Linked DNA regions of Homo sapiens: region 2 is linked to region 1. Evidence: fine-mapped QTL for protein levels in blood plasma. Region 1 holds a variant in brackets. A gene starts in the other region. All regions are shown on their reverse strands.

What was found. A credible set is the group of variants that fine-mapping cannot tell apart. PIP is the posterior inclusion probability: the model's chance that the variant is causal. The UK Biobank Pharma Proteomics Project read protein levels with antibody pairs (Olink). The fine-mapping took linkage between variants from a reference panel, not from the people measured, so its PIPs are less certain.
Region 2: it holds the start of INPP5J, and the variant in region 1 is the best candidate, but not a certain one, in a credible set for the plasma level of the INPP5J protein (UK Biobank, PIP 0.58).

The regions. Positions count from the first base shown.
Region 1 is chr17:44,248,029-44,253,028 of GRCh38, reverse strand. It overlaps SLC4A1 (solute carrier family 4 member 1 (Diego blood group)), which reads left to right. Exons shown (of 20, transcript NM_000342.4): 18 at 1,441-1,610; 19 at 1,697-1,870; 20 at 2,491-4,639. The coding sequence ends at 2,571. Among named protein-coding and RNA genes, the nearest start is that of SLC4A1, 18 kb to the left of the region's middle. The variant T/G (reference allele first, on the strand shown) is at 1,393.
Region 2 is chr22:31,118,990-31,124,499 of GRCh38, reverse strand. It overlaps INPP5J (inositol polyphosphate-5-phosphatase J), which reads right to left and starts at 1,534. Exons shown (of 13, transcript NM_001284285.2): 1 at 1,381-1,534. The coding sequence starts at 1,485. It overlaps LOC105372995 (a long non-coding RNA gene), which reads left to right and starts at 4,198. Exons shown (of 3, transcript XR_938163.3): 1 at 4,198-4,617.

The DNA of each region.
Region 1 (5,000 bases):
TCCTCCAGCCTCCCCCATCCTGCACCACTTCCCCACATCTCCCCAGCATCCCCTACTCACACGAGGGGATCCTGGAGGAAAGGCCAAGGCACTGGGCTGGGCGTCTGAGCAGGGAGGAAGGGGGCTCCACTCCGAGGCCTTCTCCAGACCAGACCCCACCTTCTGACTTACCCAACAGAAGTCCAGTGAACTGTGGGTTCTAGCCCTGCCCTGCTGCTAACCCAGTATCCCTCCTTGTCTCTGGGTCTCAGTTTCCCTGTCTGCACAGTTGGAGGGTTCAACAGATGTCCCCCAGTTCTCTTCCAGCTCAGCTGCTCCATGACTGATACAAGGGGCGGTGCTCTAGCCATAGTCCAGGGATGTGGGGGAGAAGAAAGAAGGGTCACTGGGGTTGATTTCAGTTCTGGAGCAGCCAAGAGTCGAGCTGGGTTCGGTGTGGGCAGTGCCATGGTTGCAGATGGAGAGGTCAGGGAAAATTCTTAAAGGAGGCAGTTGATGGCATTCTGGGCTGGGGTGAGGAGAAAGGTGTGTGTGTTTGACCTCTGTGACCCTCATTAGGTTAAGGGAGTGGGCTTAAGTCAGGCAGGCAGGGCTTTGACTCCTTGCCAGCTGTGTGGCCTTAGGCAGGTTGTTTACCTCTCTGAGCCTGTTTCCTCATCTGTAAAATTGGGGTAATACCTATAAAAAGGACCGATAGAGGCCGGGGGTTGTGGCTCACGCCTGTAATCCCAGCACTTTGGGAGACTGAGGCAGGTGGGTCACCCTGTCCAACATGGTGAAACCACGTCTCTACTAAAATTACAAAATCAGCTGGGCGTGGTGTCGCACGCCTATAATCCCAGCTACTTGGGAGGCTGAGGCAGGAGAATTGCTTGAACCCAGGAGGCGGAGGTTGAAGTGAGCTGAGATTGCACCACTGCACTCCAGCCTGGGCAACAGAGTGAGACTCCGCCTCAAAAAAAAAAAAAAAAAAAAAAAAAAGACCCATAGGAATAGCTCCAGGCCAGGCGTGGGATCTCAACACTTTGGGAGGCCAAGGCAGGAGAATCACTTGAGCCCAGGAGTTCAAGACTAGCCTGGGCAACATAGTGAGACCTTGTCTCTACTAAAAATTAAAAAAAAAAAAAATGATCCAGGTGTGGTTGTATGTGCCTGTAGTTCCAGCAACTAGGGACACTGAAGCGGGAGGATCACTTGGGATCAGGAGGTTAAGTCTGTTGTGAGCCGAGATCACACTACTGCACTCTGGCTTGGGTGACAGAGCGAGATCCTGTCTCAAAAAAAAAAACAAAAAAAAAAAAAAAAAAAGAAAAGAAAAGGAAAAAAGAAATGGCTCCATATGGTGCCTGTGTTTTATTCCCAGCCCCAGATAGGGGCCTGACCCCCCACTGG[T/G]GCCAGGCCTCGGGCAACCTGGGCTGAGAGTGTGCGGCTCCCCCACAGGCCTGTCCATCCTCATGGAGCCCATCCTGTCCCGCATCCCCCTGGCTGTACTGTTTGGCATCTTCCTCTACATGGGGGTCACGTCGCTCAGCGGCATCCAGCTCTTTGACCGCATCTTGCTTCTGTTCAAGCCACCCAAGTATCACCCAGATGTGCCCTACGTCAAGCGGGTACAGGACCCTTTTCTGGCTGCCCAGCCTGGGGTGGTAGAGGGTGCTGGGGTGTGATAGGCACTGACCCCAGCCTCCGCCTGCAGGTGAAGACCTGGCGCATGCACTTATTCACGGGCATCCAGATCATCTGCCTGGCAGTGCTGTGGGTGGTGAAGTCCACGCCGGCCTCCCTGGCCCTGCCCTTCGTCCTCATCCTCACTGTGCCGCTGCGGCGCGTCCTGCTGCCGCTCATCTTCAGGAACGTGGAGCTTCAGTGTGTGAGTGGCTGCCTGGGCCTGGGGCACAAGAGCTGGGAGCATGCGAGGGGCGCGTCTCAGAACTAGGGCAGGCAGGACAGAGTCATGGGTAAAGTCTGGGGCTAGGGCTGGTGTCCAGGTTCTGGCCTGCTGTGTCCTAGCATATGATCTGGAGCACGGGGCCTTGTTTCTCTGTGTCTTCATTTTGCTCACCTGTAAAGGGGGAAATGATGGCACGACTGGGGAGAGCGTCAAGAGGCAGACAGGGTGTGCTGTGAGTGAGCTGGACCCCTAAGCAGCAAGTCCTGCCGTCTTCCGAGTCATTTGGGACAGAGTCACTCCTCTAATAGGATTCTTCCACAGGGTGACTCAGGTCACTGTGGGGCCGCCTTGGTGAAAAGGTCCCCTGCTCACCCTCTGCAGGCCCTCCCCTGCCAGGGTCCACATCCCCGGGGTTGCCTCTCACTTTGACAACGACTCATTTAGGCCAGTCCTAGCTGCTGGGGAGATAAAACAGGACTGGTCCAAGGTTCAAGACAGCCAGACCCTCTCCTAACTCCAGAGGTGCCTTTCGTGCCCGGGGAGGGCTCTTCTGGCCCCAGGGTCTCTCACCCTGTCTCTCTCCTGTCCCTCCCCTCCAGCTGGATGCTGATGATGCCAAGGCAACCTTTGATGAGGAGGAAGGTCGGGATGAATACGACGAAGTGGCCATGCCTGTGTGAGGGGCGGGCCCAGGCCCTAGACCCTCCCCCACCATTCCACATCCCCACCTTCCAAGGAAAAGCAGAAGTTCATGGGCACCTCATGGACTCCAGGATCCTCCTGGAGCAGCAGCTGAGGCCCCAGGGCTGTGGGTGGGGAAGGAAGGCGTGTCCAGGAGACCTTCCACAAAGGGTAGCCTGGCTTTTCTGGCTGGGGATGGCCGATGGGGCCCACATTAGGGGGTTTGTTGCACAGTCCCTCCTGTTGCCACACTTTCACTGGGGATCCCGTGCTGGAAGACTTAGATCTGAGCCCTCCCTCTTCCCAGCACAGGCAGGGGTAGAAGCAAAGGCAGGAGGTGGGTGAGCGGGTGGGGTGCTTGCTGTGTGACCTTGGGCAAGTCCCTTGACCTTTCCAGCCTATATTTCCTCTTCTGTAAAATGGGTATATTGATGATAATACCCACATTACAGGATGGTTACTGAGGACCAAAGATACATGTAAAATAGGGCTTTGTAAACTCCACAGGGACTGTTCTATAGCAGTCATCATTTGTCTTTGAACGTACCCAAGGTCACATAGCTGGGATTTGAACTGAGCCGTGCAGCTGGGATTTGAACCAGGCCTTCTGATTTCAAGGTCCGAGCTCTGTCCTCTGTCAGTCATGCGTCCACTTTCCCTTCCCCTGTGACTCCTCCCTTCCCCACTCTGCTCCCAGCCCCTACCTTGAGACCCTCTTCTCTGGGCCCAGAGAGAGGCGTCCTGGTGAGGACAAGGTACAGGCAAGGATGATCCAGGGATTGGGCCTGGGACTCAGGCCTCCTAAGTGTTTGGTTCCTCCCTCCAAACACTCATTAGTTCACTCATTCATTCATTCCACAAACATTTACTGAGGGCCCCGGAATCAGTGGACTCCGAGGGGACTGAGACAAGCCCTGCCCTGGGGTGGGGGTGGGGGGCAAGGTACAGTTGATTCTACATTTGGATAGGGAGTGGGGGAGGGTGGGAAGGTAGGGGCGGGAGAGTGAGGGGGTTTGTAATTTATTAATTGCGTATTTTCTAAGAGTTTTCAACATAGTTTGGCTTCACACACAACTTCAGGCCCCTCATTTGAGAGCCATTATCCTCAACTCCATCTAAACTGAATCTTGGGGAGAACCCAGATCTGACCAATTGGGGTAGGAGACAGCAGGCTCTCCAAGAACATGGGCAAATTTATTTTTTTATAAAACAAAAAGATAAAAAGAGTTGAAAGACGTGAAAGTGGTGAGAGATGGAGGAAACAGAATCAGGAAGTGGTAGAAAAGAGAGGAGGTGGCTGGGCGCAGTGGCTCACGTTTGTAATCCCAGCACTTTGGGAGGCCAAGTTGGGCGGATCATTTGAGGTCAGGAGTTTGAGACCAGCCTGGCCAACATGGTGAAACCCCGTTACTACTAAAAATACAAAAATTAGCTGGGTGTCTCGTGGCAGGCACCTGTAATCCCAGCTACTTAGAAGGCTGAGGCAAGAGAATCACCTGAACCCAGGAGGTGGAGGTTGCAGTGAGCCAAGATTGCACCACTGCACTCCAGCCTGGGCAACAGAGCGAGACCCTGTCTCAAAAAAAAAAAAAAAAAAAAAAAAAAAACGGAAGGAAACATCAGCCTTGGGGGCCACAGACTCAACATGTGTGTGTGGTGGGGTTCCAGCCCAACATAGAGTAACATTATTTGTACCTCCCAGGCTAGCTCAGTCCATGGGAGGCTCTCCTGTCCCTGAAAGCTGACACCCACCTTTCACCACTTCGCCCATGCTACAGTTCAGTTTCCTCGTCTGTAAAATGGGGATGATAATGGTACCTACCTTGCAGTGTTGTTATAAGGATTAAAGGAGACAGTGCAAGAAAAGGCCTTGGTTGGTGAAGAGCCCAACCTCGGAGGGGAGCTGCTGGGATCCTCCTTATCTTGACTGGGATGTCCCTGTCTCCCCCTCCCCTTGCTCCTTGAACATGGCCAAGGAAAGTGAAAAACAAAAATTATTCACTCTGCTAGCACCCTTCCCCTTGATGCCTGGGAATAGGTTTTGCCAATAAACGTATCTGTGTTGGAGTGGCTGCCTTGCCTGAATTCCCGTTCCCAGAGTCGGGGGTCCCGGGGGTCTTGGCTGAACTAGGTGGGCATGGTGTGTGTGGCACGGGCCTGGCACAGGGCTGCATCTATGCAGCAAGGGGAGCCAGGCTGAGGTGTGACCCTGAGCCCTAGGGTGGGAGGCCAGCACCCAGAGAGTGGGTAGGGAGCAAGAGATGAGATTATGCTCTGAGACTCCTTCCTCTCCTGAATAAGCAAGACCTGTGGGGGTGGGAGGAGGGACTGTAAGGGGACCTTGCCCCCTGCTCCTTATACTTGTGAGCCCCCAATTCCCTTTAGATCAGTGGACCCCTTACCGGGAAGCTGGACAGCACCTTTGACA
Region 2 (5,510 bases), not on the chromosome of region 1:
AACCCTCCCACTGCAGTCCCTGAAGCTCCCCCAGCCACGGCTACTGACCTGACATCCCAGGTCTGGGCACACTGGGGACAGCCTGTTTCTTTTCTTTTTCTATTGTCAAGATACAGACCTACAGGTGCAGCTTGTTAAATACCTCTCCCTTCCTTCATAATGCCCAGAAACCCTCAGTTCCCCACCGCCCCCTAAACATCCAAATCCCTTGGTTACAGCCCTCTCTGTTCTCTTACCCATTCCCAGAGCTCCACTCAGGAGCAAGAGCTGGGAGCTGAGACTGGCTGTGTAGATTCAAAGCCCAGCTCTGTGTGACCTTAGGCAAGTACCTCTCTGCCCAGCGCCTCAGTTTCTCTGTCTGTAAAATGAAGGGATGGGGTCTAGGGTTCCTGGCCACATTATATTCTGGGGAATCTTCATCTCCCATTGTCTGCATTTATGAGCCCAACATTTGCTAGAATTCCATCTAGCCCCGTTGAATAGTCCATCCTCACCAAGTGTGAATCTAGCATTCAGAGCAAGTCCAGGATTCTAAGTTGATCCTGGTGTCACATCTCTCTGTGCCCAGGTTGTGCCCTCTTACATCCTCCACTTTCTCCCCTACCTGAAAGGACAGGCAAGCAGGTATCCCATTTATGTCCGGCAGGTGGGAGGGGTGGGGAGTCACGGAGTCCTGTAGAGACCTATCCTCCTTCCCCATCTATTCTCTCTGATGTCCCCTGTCTCCAGAAGACAGGATAAAGTGTCCTTCACCAAGGAGGGCAGAAGAATGTCTATACTTGCCCCAGGATGGCCCTAGGTAGGGTAACAGGGCGCAGGGAGGCCCTGCCTCTGGAGACGCACTTCTGTTTCTGTCCCGTATCCTTCTCAGTTCAGAGTACCTAAAACTCCATCTCCACCTCCCTTCTCAAACTCAGTTCTTTGAGGTGGCATTTTAGGCACCCTCCTTGGCTCCAAGTGTCACACTGTGTGCCGGCTTCCCCCCAACTATCACACCGCCTCCAGTACTAACAACTTAGCCATCCCAGATGTCACAGTTTTAGTCTTCAGCGACAAGCCCCCTCATTTTGCATTGGCTCAGAGAGGAAAAGCAACTTGGCCAAGGTCACACAGCAAAGGTGGAGCACAGCTGGGTCCTCTGATACCCAGTCCAGGACTCTCCCAAGGGCTCCTGGAGATGGCTAACTTCATCTGTCTCCGGGCATCCTGTCACTGCCCCTCAGCCCCCAGGGTGCTCTCTTCACCTAGCCCCTGCTCGCTGAGCAGAGGAAAGTACCAGCCCCTCAGTCAGGAGCACCAGGGAGCCTGCAGTGTATGTGGGGGGGGTGTGTGGAACCAGGGATCAGGAAAGCGGGGGGCACTGGGTCTCAGGGGTCTTACCTTGGAGGGTGCCCCAGTTTGGGCAACACCCTGGGGCATGGGCAGGGAACCCAGGCCAGCCCGGGTCCCTGGCCTCCTGCTGCCCCTGCTGCTCTGGCCCTCCATGTCTGCAGCCCCCGGCAGCCTGGACTCCCTTGGCTCCGGCTCCAGCTCTACCGCTCCCGGGAACCAGTGATGTCATCAGCCATTTCAACCTGCTGAGAATTTAAAGGCACAGGCTCCCACTTCCCAGCCTGGAAGAGGCCGAAGCAAGGTGGCTACCCCCTGGGAATCCTTCAAACTGGCTGCTGAGGCTGGAACAGCCATGGAGTGGGGAGGGGAGAGTGTACCCATCTGCCTGGCCCAGGTCCCAACTGGCAGCAGGAAGGAGGCTGTCTGTCTACCTTCACCTTTCTGCCGTAGGCCTGGTCAGCCCTTTGCTCCAGGGAGGGGCATTAACACACCTGCCTTAAGGTAGGACAGGTGGTTCAGAGGTCTGCACCCTCTCCAGGGCCTCAGAGACAACTGAGTTCTTGCCCTGATCCTGTGACCTTCCTGGCTCCCTGCCAGCTCAGAGCTTGCCCCGGCCCCCACCCTTGCCCCATTTTCAGGTCTTGGTGCCACCCTCTCCACTCCTACTGCCAGTCCCAGGCTCTATTCTTCCCAACCCAGAACCAGACACTCAGGCTCCAGCCACTGCAGTCTTTTCCCATCTCAGGCCTCAGCACCAGCCCCTCCTCTTCTGCAGACACCTAGCTGCCCTCAGATGTCCCCACAGCCAGGCCTAACCCAGCCCGGCTTCTGTCAGCTTTCTTCTCTCCAGTATTCACTGGGTGTGGTTTGGGAGGGGAACTTGCTCAAGGTCACCTGGTGAACTGAGAAGGTCTCCTGTGTTTCAGTGAGAAAACTTAGTGACCTAGGATGAGCACAAGCCCTTCGAGCTATCTGGGGGAAGGGAACTTGGGTGGAGAAGGGCCCAGCAGTGGGGTAACAGACTGACAAGAGAGTTACAAACAGGCCTGAGAATTGCTACAGCCAGGACCCAGCCCAGGACATGGTCCCCAACAGGCCTACGGGAGTGTTTGTTGAATGAATAAATGAATTAGAAGAGTGAATGGGTGATGAGGGTCAGATTGGGCTGGGATGGCTGTGGGATCTGTTTCTCATGGCTTAGAGAGGAGTGATCCCACCCACTTTAGGCAGAAAGTGTTCAGAGTTGTGTGTGCAGAGCTCCCTGTTAACCAACATGGAGCATCTGCATGGGCCTGTGCAGTCTCCTACATGAAGGCAGATGCCTCACTTTCCTCTCCTGAAGGCACTTCCTACCTCTGCTTGACTGTCAGTAGGTCTAGTCTGTATTCTCAGGCCAGCATCTCTGCTGGAATTTGCAGGGGCAGAGACTCAGGCCATATTAGAGTGTTGGGGTAGAAAGGTCTTTGGACAGCGATAGTGGAGATGGTGACAGTGGTGACGGGGAAGGCGACTGTGGTGATGGATGTGATGATGTATGTAACTGTGATGATGGAAGTAGGGGGCTAGCAGTGGTTGTGGTGAAGGTGGTGGAGGTGATGGTGATGGCAAAGGTAGAGGTGATGATGATACCAATACTGATGATGGTGTTGTGTCAATGAAAGAGGTAGTGTTGGAGTTGGAGGTGACAGTCAGGGAGGATGTGAGAGTAGACCTGGTGGTGATGCTCAGGTTACCAGAAAAAGGAAGATTCGAACTCATCCTGTCTTATCCTCTGTCTCCTGTTTTACAAATAAGAAAATGGGAGCCCCCGGGCTGGGGGAGTACTGGCAAAGTGCGGGTAATCCCAGCACTTTGGGAGGCTGAGGTGGGCAGATCACCTGAGGTCAGGAGTTCGAGACCAGCCTGGTCAACATGGCGAAACCCCATCTCCACTAAAAATATAAAAATGAGCCGGGTGTGGTGGTACATGCCTGTAGTCTCAGCGACTTGGGAGGCTGAGACAGGAGAATTGTTTGAACCTGGGAGGTGGAGGTGGAGGTTGCAATGAGCCAAGATCGTACCACTGCACTCCAGCCTGGGTGACAGAGAGAGGCCCTGTCTCAAAAAAAAAAAAAAAAAGAAAGAAAGAAAAGAAAAAAGAAAAAGAAAATGGGAGCCCCCAAGACTACCCAGCTTTTCATGCAATCCTAGAGGGAATGATGGGCAGATCCAGGCCTCTGGGACCAGTCCTAAGGCTCAGCCATCTAGGGCTGGGACAGGGGCATCAGTGCCCTTTGGAAGCCAGGCAAATGTCATGCAAATGTGTCTGCAGAGGGCTCCTCTGCCTCAGGAGGGCAACCCAGGATTTCCCACCACCCGCTCCCTGAGCTCAGACCCTGCAGGGGACTTTGTTTCTGGCCCTGCCACTGACTTACTTGAGGAGGTCACTCTGATTCCCAATTTGTGTAAGGGAGATTAAAACAGCAGACACCTCCTAAGTTTGCTGGTGAAGATTCAACAGGATAATATATATGAAATGTTTAGCATAGAGCCTGCCTGGCACAGCAAGCTCTCCATAAAGGTGGCTGCTCTGTATTTATCATCATCATCATCACCACCATTGACTTCAGCCTGCCCATGTGGTGGATGCTGAAACAGGCTGAGGGTGGTTACTCTCCTGGGAGGACAAGGAAGGGGCTCTGAGACCCAAGCCTGGTCTTGTCAGGAGAAGGGGGTAGGGGGCGGACCCCAGCTGAAAAGGGAGTGAGTTGGAGCTATATTTGAGCTCCTGGTGTGATGACTAAGGAGGTTGATAACAGGCTCTGGGGCTCAGGGCGGCAGGCTGGGGGCAGCTGTCAGGGAGAACCGCCCCCCTGGAGACGGCTGTCTCTGGAGGCCCTTTCTGGCTCCCTCCTTGCCCTCACTCTTGGTGGGGGAGGGGGGTGGGCGTACTGAGGCAGGGTCCAGGGCTCATCCAGCCCACTCCTGGAAACTCAGTGCTGTCCTTCAGGCTGTGTGGGTCAGGGATAGGAAGGCAGGATGCCAGTGATAGATGGAGTATCCCAGTTACTCTCCATAGTAACCCTGTGAGGTTGGTAATGAGGCCCCCATTGGACAGAGGAAGAAACCGAGGCCCAGGGATTACACAGCCAGTAGAGAGAGGACAGAGCATGGAGCTCCTGGAGAGGCAGTGGATAATTCTTCCCGACAGAGGAGCTGACTGTTGAACCCCTTCTTTGAAGGAGAGTCCGTGCTGCCAAATCGAAGAAGAGAAACGCCCTGGCTGGAAAGCAGAGAGAACAGCAGGTACAAAGCATGGATGGGGAAGGAAGGTTCTGGCTGTGAAAGGATGAGAAATTTGGACATGTACCCTCCTGCCCTTTGGTTCGGAGTAAACATGAGCAGGGAAGGGAGAGAAGTCTTTCCTGTCTTTTTCCTCCTCCTCTTCCTCGGTTCACTTTCCAGGGGCACCTGAGGATGGCAACGGTACCGAGGGTCTGTCCTCCTTCCTTTCTCTCCCTGGTCACCCTGACCCAGGCCCGCCATGAGGGAGGTCATGCTATGGCTACCATCTGCAAAGGTGTAGAGGGTGATACAGGATATTGTGGGAATGTGAAAGAAGGGGTTATCTGGGAGGGCTTCCCTGAGGAGGAAGTATACAGGGCACAAAAGAGCATTTCTTCTCCCAAGGCTTCACTCCAGGGTTTCTTGTTGGTAACAAGCTTCACATGTTATGTCCCCAGCACTTCATTCTCACCCTCTGAGGCAGATGTCATCCTCACTCCCCATTCTGCCACTCAGGAAATGGGCTGGAGGAGGAGGAGTGACTTTCCCAAGGTCACACAGCTGGGGCTGAGCTCAGGCCTCTCTCCTCCTTCTCTTCGGCTCCCCCTCCTCCTAGGCAGCCCAGCACCCGCTGTCAGCTGCTCTGAAGTGAGTGGCTATTTTTATTCTGGTGCGAGGGGATCTCAAGCAGCAGAGCCATGTAGGTTAGAGGCTCTAGGACACCCGGCCTCAGCAGTCCAGGGGAAACTTCCTGCAGCCACCAGACCCTGCTAAGCTTGCCTGGGGGCTCTCATTTCTTGCAGACTGACTTGCTCTGGGCTCCTATGCCTCCAGAAGCTTCTTTATTGGAGCTCAGAACAGAGCATAGAGCCAGATTAAGCCCTGGTCATGGTCCTGATCCTCCAACTTGAACC